2 linked regions of the Homo sapiens genome follow. The protein of the gene in region 1 purifies or fractionates together with the protein of each later gene. This does not show direct contact. Each region holds a gene or a part of one and is shown on either strand. Other genes may lie near its edges.

Evidence for each region.
Region 2: the proteins of CHP1 (region 1) and AGPAT2 purify together in Homo sapiens (co-immunoprecipitation; one large-scale study listed by IntAct). This does not show direct contact.

Annotation. Positions count from the first base shown.
Region 1 is NC_000015.10:41,262,100-41,265,902, forward strand, and holds part of CHP1 (calcineurin B homologous protein 1), read left to right. Parts: intron 1-656; coding exon 657-784; intron 785-2,065; coding exon of another isoform or gene 2,066-2,088; exon of another isoform or gene 2,089-3,803. UniProt on the Homo sapiens protein: Calcium-binding protein involved in different processes such as regulation of vesicular trafficking, plasma membrane Na(+)/H(+) exchanger and gene transcription. Involved in the constitutive exocytic membrane traffic.
Region 2 is NC_000009.12:136,684,412-136,688,774, reverse strand, and holds the start of AGPAT2 (1-acyl-sn-glycerol-3-phosphate acyltransferase beta), read left to right. Parts: upstream 1-1,317; 5' UTR 1,318-1,417; coding exon 1,418-1,599; intron 1,600-2,578; exon of another isoform or gene 2,579-2,697; intron 2,698-4,363. UniProt on the Homo sapiens protein: Converts 1-acyl-sn-glycerol-3-phosphate (lysophosphatidic acid or LPA) into 1,2-diacyl-sn-glycerol-3-phosphate (phosphatidic acid or PA) by incorporating an acyl moiety at the sn-2 position of the glycerol backbone.

The sequences.
Region 1 (3,803 bases):
CGGAGGTTGCAGTGAGCCGAGGTAGTGCCACTGCATTCCAGCCTGGATGCAAGACTCTGTCTCAAAATAAATAAATAAAGCAAGACTTTATTTATTTATAAGCAGAGCAAGACTCTGTCTCAAAATAAATAAATAAATAAGAAAAATTAAAAATTAAATAAACTTTATTTTAAAAGCGGCCTTTCCATAATGTGCCTTAATTTTAAAATATCCCTTGGTATACATTACTGCAGGGGAGATGGGGGAGATGTGGGAGGTGGCTGAGGAGTCATTGGGCTGCCTGTGGCTCGCTGCAGAGTTCAAAGCAATGAGTTCAAGTTCTGGCTGTCTTGTATAGTGCTGGCACTACTCTACATTCATTTTTTGGAAAACAGATGCAAGTAAATTCAATAGATAACTTTATCCCTGGTAAGTCCTGTTACCTAAATCTGGTTAAATCATTTATAAAGTGGGAGTAATAGCACCTGCCTTACAAGGTTGGGGTGAGGCTTAAATGATATGGTACTGTGAGTCCCAAAGTACCATGCGTATGGAAAGAAACCTCATTAAATGACCTTTCAGGCTACCGTAGCTAAAGCTGTTGCCAGTATATTTAATTCATAAGAAATAATCACCGTGATTGACATGGTGTTGTGTTTGTTATATTTCACAATCAGAGAGGACCAGGTAAACTTCCGTGGATTCATGCGAACTTTGGCTCATTTCCGCCCCATTGAGGATAATGAAAAGAGCAAAGATGTGAATGGACCCGAACCACTCAACAGCCGAAGCAACAAACTGCACTGTAAGGAGCTAAAGTCTTCTGGCTTAAAATACTTGCTTTTCATTTCTTAAAAGTCATGTATTTACTCACTCATTATTTGAACAAGCATCTACAAGAGCATACTGGTTAAGACCTCAGACTCTGGAGCTAAACTGGCCAAGATTAAATACTAGTCTACCCTTTTTTGGTCGTGTGACTTTGGGCAAGGTACTTAACCTCTTTGGGCTTCAGTTTTCTCTTCTGTAAAATAGGATACTAAGGGGTTCCACATTGGATTGTTGTGAGGATTAAATGAGTTAATAAATGTCAAGTGCTTCACATAGTGCCTGGCATATACTAGGTACTTAATAAGTGTTACCTAGTATCATTATAATTCATTGAGCACCTACCGTGTGCCAGGCACTGTGTTAAGTGCTAGCATGGCAATAGTGAACAAGACCCAGGCCCCACCTTTAAGGAATAATGGCAATCCTCAGCTCATCTTAGAATTTGATAGACACTGGATGTGACTTAAGTAATGGGGGACAGCTGGATACAGTGCAAGATTTAATTTTTATACCCGTGTCTCATGCCTCTTTTCCTTTAATACTTGTTTGCCTTCCCTTCTGCCCTTATTGGTTCATGTACAATATTGCCCAATCCCTTACAACACTTCTCCAGGAAATTGAAATTAAATTTATCTTTTTATTCAGTACAAGTTGAAATTACAGTTGTATTAAAACTGACTGAAGGCTGGGCGCAGTGGCTCATGCCTGTAATCCCAGCACTTTGGGAGGCCAAGGTAGGTAGATCACTTGAGCCCAGGAGTTTGAGACCAGCCTGGGCAACATGGTGAAACATTGTCTCTAATAAAAATACAAAAATTAGCCAGGTGTGGTGGCAGGCACCTGTGCTCCCAGGTACTTGGGAGGCTGAGGTGGGAGAATTGCTTGAGCCTGAGAGGTTGAGGCTGCAATGAACCTTGATGGCACCACTGCACTTCAGCCCAGGTGACAGAAACTCTGTCTCAACAAAGAAAAGAAAACAAAACAAAATCTTCGAAATAGCACTAGTGGATTTGGGCGTTACATGGTGTCTTAGGATACCTTTAGCTGACTCAGCTGGCTTAAACAATAGGGAACTATATTAGCTCACTTTACAAGTCAGATTAGGCCGGCAGGAGGGTTGATTCTGTTTCAAGAACTAGGGATTTTTCTCTTTACTCTGCCATCCTCATAGTCTGTTTTATCCTAAAGTATTATGGTCACATGGCAGCTCTCAGTTGTTAACAGGGCTTTTTTTTTTCTTGTTCACATCTGGCAGTAGAGGAAGAGAGATATATATAGAGAGAGATCGAGACTGAAATTGAGCAACACTCCTCCCAAGCATGGAATGTAAGTCCTTCCCCTCACTTTGATAAGTCAGTTCAGGTCAGGAGAGTGCGAGTGCCGAGGAGATTAGGCTAATGAGATTCCCCTCCTGATGCTGTGATTGGGGTTCTGCTAAGGAAAAAGGTTGGAATGCCACAGAAATGGCAGACTTCAGGATGAGATAGAATAATAACAAAGTGCTATGCAGGTTATGCTTGGTTTTATTTTGTTTTTGCTTAATTTTTTGAGATAGGGTCTCACTCTGTCACCCAGGCTGAGTGCAGTGGCGTGATCACAGCTCACTATGGCCTTGACTTTCCTGGCTCAAGTGATCTTTTTGCCTCAGCCTCTCAAGTTGCTGGGACCACAGGCGTGTGCACTACACCCAGCTAATTTTTTATTTTCTAATTTTTTGTAGGGACAGGGTCTCACTATGTTGCCCAGACTGGTCTCGAAATCTTGGACGCAAGCAGTCATCCCACCTTGGCCTCCCAAAGTGCTGGGATTACAGGCATGAGCCTCCATACCCAGCCTGTTTTTTTCATTACATACTTTAGTCTTGGCTGTTGGATTAACTTTTATAGGAAGCTAAAAATTAATTAGAATTCTGTTGCAGTCTATGTATAGGGATCACATTCATGTAATTAGACCAGTAAAACCGAAGCTATTCTAATGCCAAAGAAAAGACTAGAAGAGTCCGAGAAGTCCTCAATTTCTGTCTAAATGTGTTGCTTCTCTTTGAAGTTCCCACAGGGCTGTATAAGCTGTAGCATGGTGCCTCTTACTGTAGACTGAGAGCAATTGAATGTCATATACCTAGCAATACATTTGCCACTGAGACACATTTACCTTAGAGAAAGGGGATGTGGGCCAGGTGCGGTGGCTCACGCCTGTAATCCCAGCACTTTGGGAGGCTGAGGCAGGCGGATCACCTGAGGTCAGGAGTTCGAGACAAGTCTGGCCAACATAGTGAAACCCCATTTCTACAAAAATACAAAAAAAATTAGCCAGGCATAATGGTGGATGCCTGTAATCCCAGCTACTCAGGAGGCTGAGGCGGGAGAATTGCTTGAACCTGGGAGGTGGAGGCTACAGTGAGCCGAGATCATGCCATTGCACTCCAGCCTGGGTGATAGAGCGAGACTCTGTCTCAAAAAAAAAAAAAAAAAAAAAAAAAAAAAAAAGGAGATGTGTTACTTAGAAATCTGGGTTTACAGGCCAGGCATGATGGCTCACGCCTGTAATCCCAGCACTTTGGGAGGCCAAGGCGGGTGGATCACTTGAGATCAGGGGTTCAAGACCAGCCTGGCCAACATGGTGAAACCCTGTCTGTACTAAAAATACAAAAAATTAGCTGGGCGTGGTGGCGGGCGCCTGTAATCTCAGGTACTCGGGAGGCTGAGACAGGAGAATACTTTGAACCTGGGGGGCAGAGGTTGCAGTTAGCCGAGATTGCACCATTACTCTCCAGCCTGGGCAACAGAGCAAAACTCCATCTCAAAAAAAAAAAAAAGAAATGTGGGTTTACAGAGGAGTGGAACCAAATTTTATTATGGGTTATACTTTGCATAGAATACTGTCTTCAGGAACTCTGAGAACACACTTTGTTCTATTTCTTTTCTAAGCCACGGTGAGAGAATTTTAATCACGATCAGCAAGGCTGAACTATGCCCATGTAGGCACAGGCCCAA
Region 2 (4,363 bases), on another chromosome or scaffold:
CTCTCAGCCTCTCAGAGGCACAGCAGTGCAGCTCTCAGACCTCCCGGCTGCGGGGTGTGCAGTTCCGGCTCCAAGCGTGGAAAGAGGTCAAGCCAGGCCCTCCAAGCTGATTCCAGATGAAGCCCATATGGATCTGGAAGGAGACTGGGCTGGAAAATGCTCTCCTGGGTTTCGCTGTAAGATGCCTACAGGCCTAAGGCAAAAGGATGTGTCTCCACTTTCAAGAAAAGCTGGGACCGCCTGGGCAGGGGCTGCTGAGCCCAGGCAGCGAGACCCCACGTCCTTCAGGACCGCAGTTCCCCATTCATTTGAAGAGCAGTTTCTGTATTTGTCATTCTCTCAGTACAGTTTGGGGGGTGGTTACAATGTTCAGGGAAATGTTTTAACAGCTCAACTCTGCATCTGAAAAAAGAGGGGCCGTGCTCCCCTGCTGACCCGTTAGAGCGCAGGGCGGCCAGCACTCCCGCAACTGCAGCAAACCCAAGAGTCCCTATGAGGAGGGACCCCAGGAAACTGCTTTTCAATCTCCATCTGCTCCCTGAGGTGGGACGCCGGGTGGGGGCCGGGCCAGGTGACTGCTGCCCTTGTCCCAGCTGCACCTTGCCCTGCCACGCTGGCCGTGCTGCCAAGCGGATGTGAACGCCGCCACCTGACACCCACCTCGCCTGCCCCCGGAGCGTCCCTGGTGACAAGGCTACTTCTGGCACCCAGGGTGGGGCAACCCAGCCCCGCCCAGACACACGCCCCAGTTGGCCTGCGCGCCCCCACGAGTCTCCCCGCAGGGGACCGAGAACACCCTAAGAGCCAGGCTTTCTGCCAGGTGGCCACTGGTCACTCGGGGGCGGTTCCGGCGGCCCTTTGCGTGGCCACCGGCCTGGCACGGGCGCATCCCCGCTGGTTTTACGCCCTTGGGGAGCTGTGGTTCTGCGCGCGGGAGCCTGTGGCTGCCCCGGCAGCGGGGGGAGGGGGCACCGGGCGGGGCAGGAGGCCCAGACCATGGGGGGCAGCGCCAGAGCCCGAGCCACCGGCAAGCCATGATGGGGGGGTCCCCTGGGACCGGGAGGGTGGGAGCAGAGCGCCAGAGCCTCGGTAACCTGGCAGAAGGCTGTGGGGAGGGAGCGTGGAGGGGAGGTCCGGGCCGGGTGACCCAGGGCGGGAAGGGGGGGCCGTGTCGGGGCGGGGTTGGGGACAGTGGCGGGGCGGGGCCTGGTGAGGGGACCGTGTCGGGGCGTTGTTGGGGACAGTGTCGGGGCGGGGCGCCGCACCTAGCCCTTCCCTGCCGCGCGCTCCTCCCCCACGCCGCGCCCCGCCCCGCCCAGCCCCGCCGCCCTCGCAATAAGGGGCCTGAGCGCGCGGGGGAGAAGCGGGAGCGGGAGCGGGAGCGAGCTGGCGGCGCCGTCGGGCGCCGGGCCGGGCCATGGAGCTGTGGCCGTGTCTGGCCGCGGCGCTGCTGTTGCTGCTGCTGCTGGTGCAGCTGAGCCGCGCGGCCGAGTTCTACGCCAAGGTCGCCCTGTACTGCGCGCTGTGCTTCACGGTGTCCGCCGTGGCCTCGCTCGTCTGCCTGCTGCGCCACGGCGGCCGGACGGTGGAGAACATGAGGCAAGGCCGGGGGCCGCCGGGAGGGGCCGGGGAACCGCCGCGCCGCTTCCGCTTCCCTAACTTTCTTCTGGGCTTCCCTCCTTCCTGCCCCGCCCGTCCCGCCCCGCTCCGGGGCTCCGGGGAGAGCGCGCCTGGGCCGGCGGCAGGCACAGGAGGGGGTCCCGGAGTCAGGGGGTCCCGGAGTCACGGGGTCAAGGAGCCGGCGTCACAGTGCCCAGCACCCCACCCCCCGCCCTGGCCCCGGGCGTCTACACCGGTTTCGGCCTCCGCCGCGTCCCTGCAGCCCGGCGTGGGGTTCCGGGGGTGGAGCAGCTTTCGGAGAGAAAGGGGGCCGGTCCGCGCTGGGAGAGGCTCAGCCCTGCTTCCTGAGCGGGGAAACCGAGGCCGGGGCGGCGGGGACTTGCCCCAGGGCTATTGATCAGGGCGCACGACGGCGTGGGGGCACCCCTCGGCCTCCCTCCGACCCCCTCCTGACTGTCCGCCCGGTGATGGGCGCACCTGTGGGGCGGGTTCCCCTTTCTCTCCCTTTCCTCTTCGCAGGGAGGTGGGGGACCCGGAGGGGACCTGCTTCCGTGCTGGGGAGCGCGCCCCTGGCCTACAGCTCCGGGGGCCCAGCTTCCAAGCGAAGGGAAGGAAGAGTTAGGACTAGGGTTCGGCGGGGCTGAAATTTTCCCCTGGACGCCTTCCAGAAGGTGGGAGCTTGGTTTTGCCAGGCTGGGGTTGGGGGCCAGAGGTCAGACTGGGCTGCCAAAGACGGCGGGGGCTGCCTGCTCCTGGGCGGGGTGGCTGCTGGAGAAGGCTCTTGCCTGCCCCCTCTCCCTGTTAGCCGTCCCCAGGCTGTTGCTACATTTCTCCCTGCCCTGTTTGGACTGCCCAGCCAGTGGCTTTTGCAATGGCCTGGGGTGGGGGCATTGTGGCCCCAGAGGCCCCCTTCCCCGTGGTTCCAGGGGCAGTGGGTGAGGGTTTGCTAGCTCCCTGCACTCGCTGTCCTTGCCAGCCCTGGGAGGGCACTGAGGCTGCTGGAACGGGCCTACAGTCATGGCTTCCAACGGAGCCCCAGAAGCTCCAGGAATATGAAGGAGGACCCTGGGCCTGATGGTGAGCATGGAGAGTCCGAGAAGGGCCTGCTGGCTGCTCAGCCAGACGTGTGTGACCAGTGGTGATGTGGGCCAGGTGGCCCAGGCCGGGGTCCCGGGGAGCGCACACTCCAGGGCTGGCCCAGGTGGTGACTGGCGCTGACGTCCCCAGTGGAGCACCCTTCAGCGAGGAAGGCAGTTTGCAGAAACAGGGAGTTCCTGGGGGCTGGGCTCTGGGCACCTGTGCTGGAATCTGTGAAGGCCTCACCTGTGGTTCTGGCCCTGGGATCCCCTGTAGGCAGGGGTCTCTGTGAGGGGCCCCCCTCAGCCCCTGGGGTGCTTCAGAGTAGGGGCGAGGGTGCGGCTTTCCCAGCTGAGGAGGGGCCAGTCTGTGGGTTCCTTGGGGTGCCCCCCACCCCGAGGAAATGGCTTGTGTGGTTCTGATGCCTGCAGGGCATCCTGTGCTGGGCGTGTCCTGGGGTGTGGACAGGGGACGGGGTCCTGTTCTTTTGGCAGAAATGATGGGGCACCTGACTTAGGAGACCCTGGAGCAGACCCCACTACTGAGCCAGGCCACAGGCCACGGGCCTCTTCATCGGCGGCCTCCTCGTGTGAGAAAGCCTGGCTTGTTCTGCAGGGGCCTCTGCCTGGACTTCCTAGCTGTTTTCCAGGGACCAAATCACAGTTCACCTGCTGCCCTTTCTATGGACCTGGCAGGCTGGGTTGGCTGGCACTGGCCCTGCTGCCCCACTGGGCCCTGTCCCCATCTCAGCTTGGAGATTCTGGCTAACCTGGGTGTCCTCGGGACCTGGGGCCTCTGATGGTGCTTGGATGGGACCCTCCTGCCGCCCTCACCTCTCCAGGGCAGCACCCAGGCTCAGGCCTGTGGAGTAGTGGCTTCCGGGACACTGGCTACTAACAGCAGGTGCTTTGTTCCTGCTTTGGTCCCTGAAGAGAAGGGAGGGCCAGAGGGCAGGGCAGTCTGGAGGAGAGGCCTGGGGCTCCATGGCTACCTTCCCCCACACCTCTGCACGTGCTCCCCAGGCCCCAGGGTCCCTGATGACTTCCAAGACTCCCAGCAATGGCTAAGAGTGGGGCTGTTGCGAACGTGCGTTCCCTCCGTGGGGGCCGTCGGGAGGGGTGAGAAAGGCAGATGAAGAGCAGGCGCTTTGTCACTCCAGGGAAGGGACCCGGGGGGCTGGAAGGGAAGGAGGGGATACTCGGCCTCTGTTCCTGCTGTACGCCACGGGTGCCTCCAGCCTCAGGAACAGGGATTCGCGTGTGCTCTGTGTTACAAATAAGGACACTGAGGCTGAGATAAGCAACTTGAAACTGGGGCAGGGTCCCCAAGCCAGGATGGGGTGGAACTGGGGTTCGAACCCACTGACAGTGACTCCAGAGTACCTGCTTTTCCCTTTCCCCTTGTTCCCAGCCCAGCGCTTGGGGCTGGTGAGGCAGCCCTGCGGCAGGCCTGAGCTCTGGGAGGGGCGCTCCATCTTGCCCCTGAGCAATGGCTGCCCTGGCTGAGGCCCAGCCCCTCCCCACGGGGTTCCAGGCGGCACCCAAGAGACCCCCACCGTCTACACCGTAGTTCTGAGCGTGTGAGGGACAGTGATGGGACTAGAACCTCTGAGGCAGCCTTCGTTCCCACCGGGCTTGGGGCTGAGACCACGGACCCCTTCCAGGCA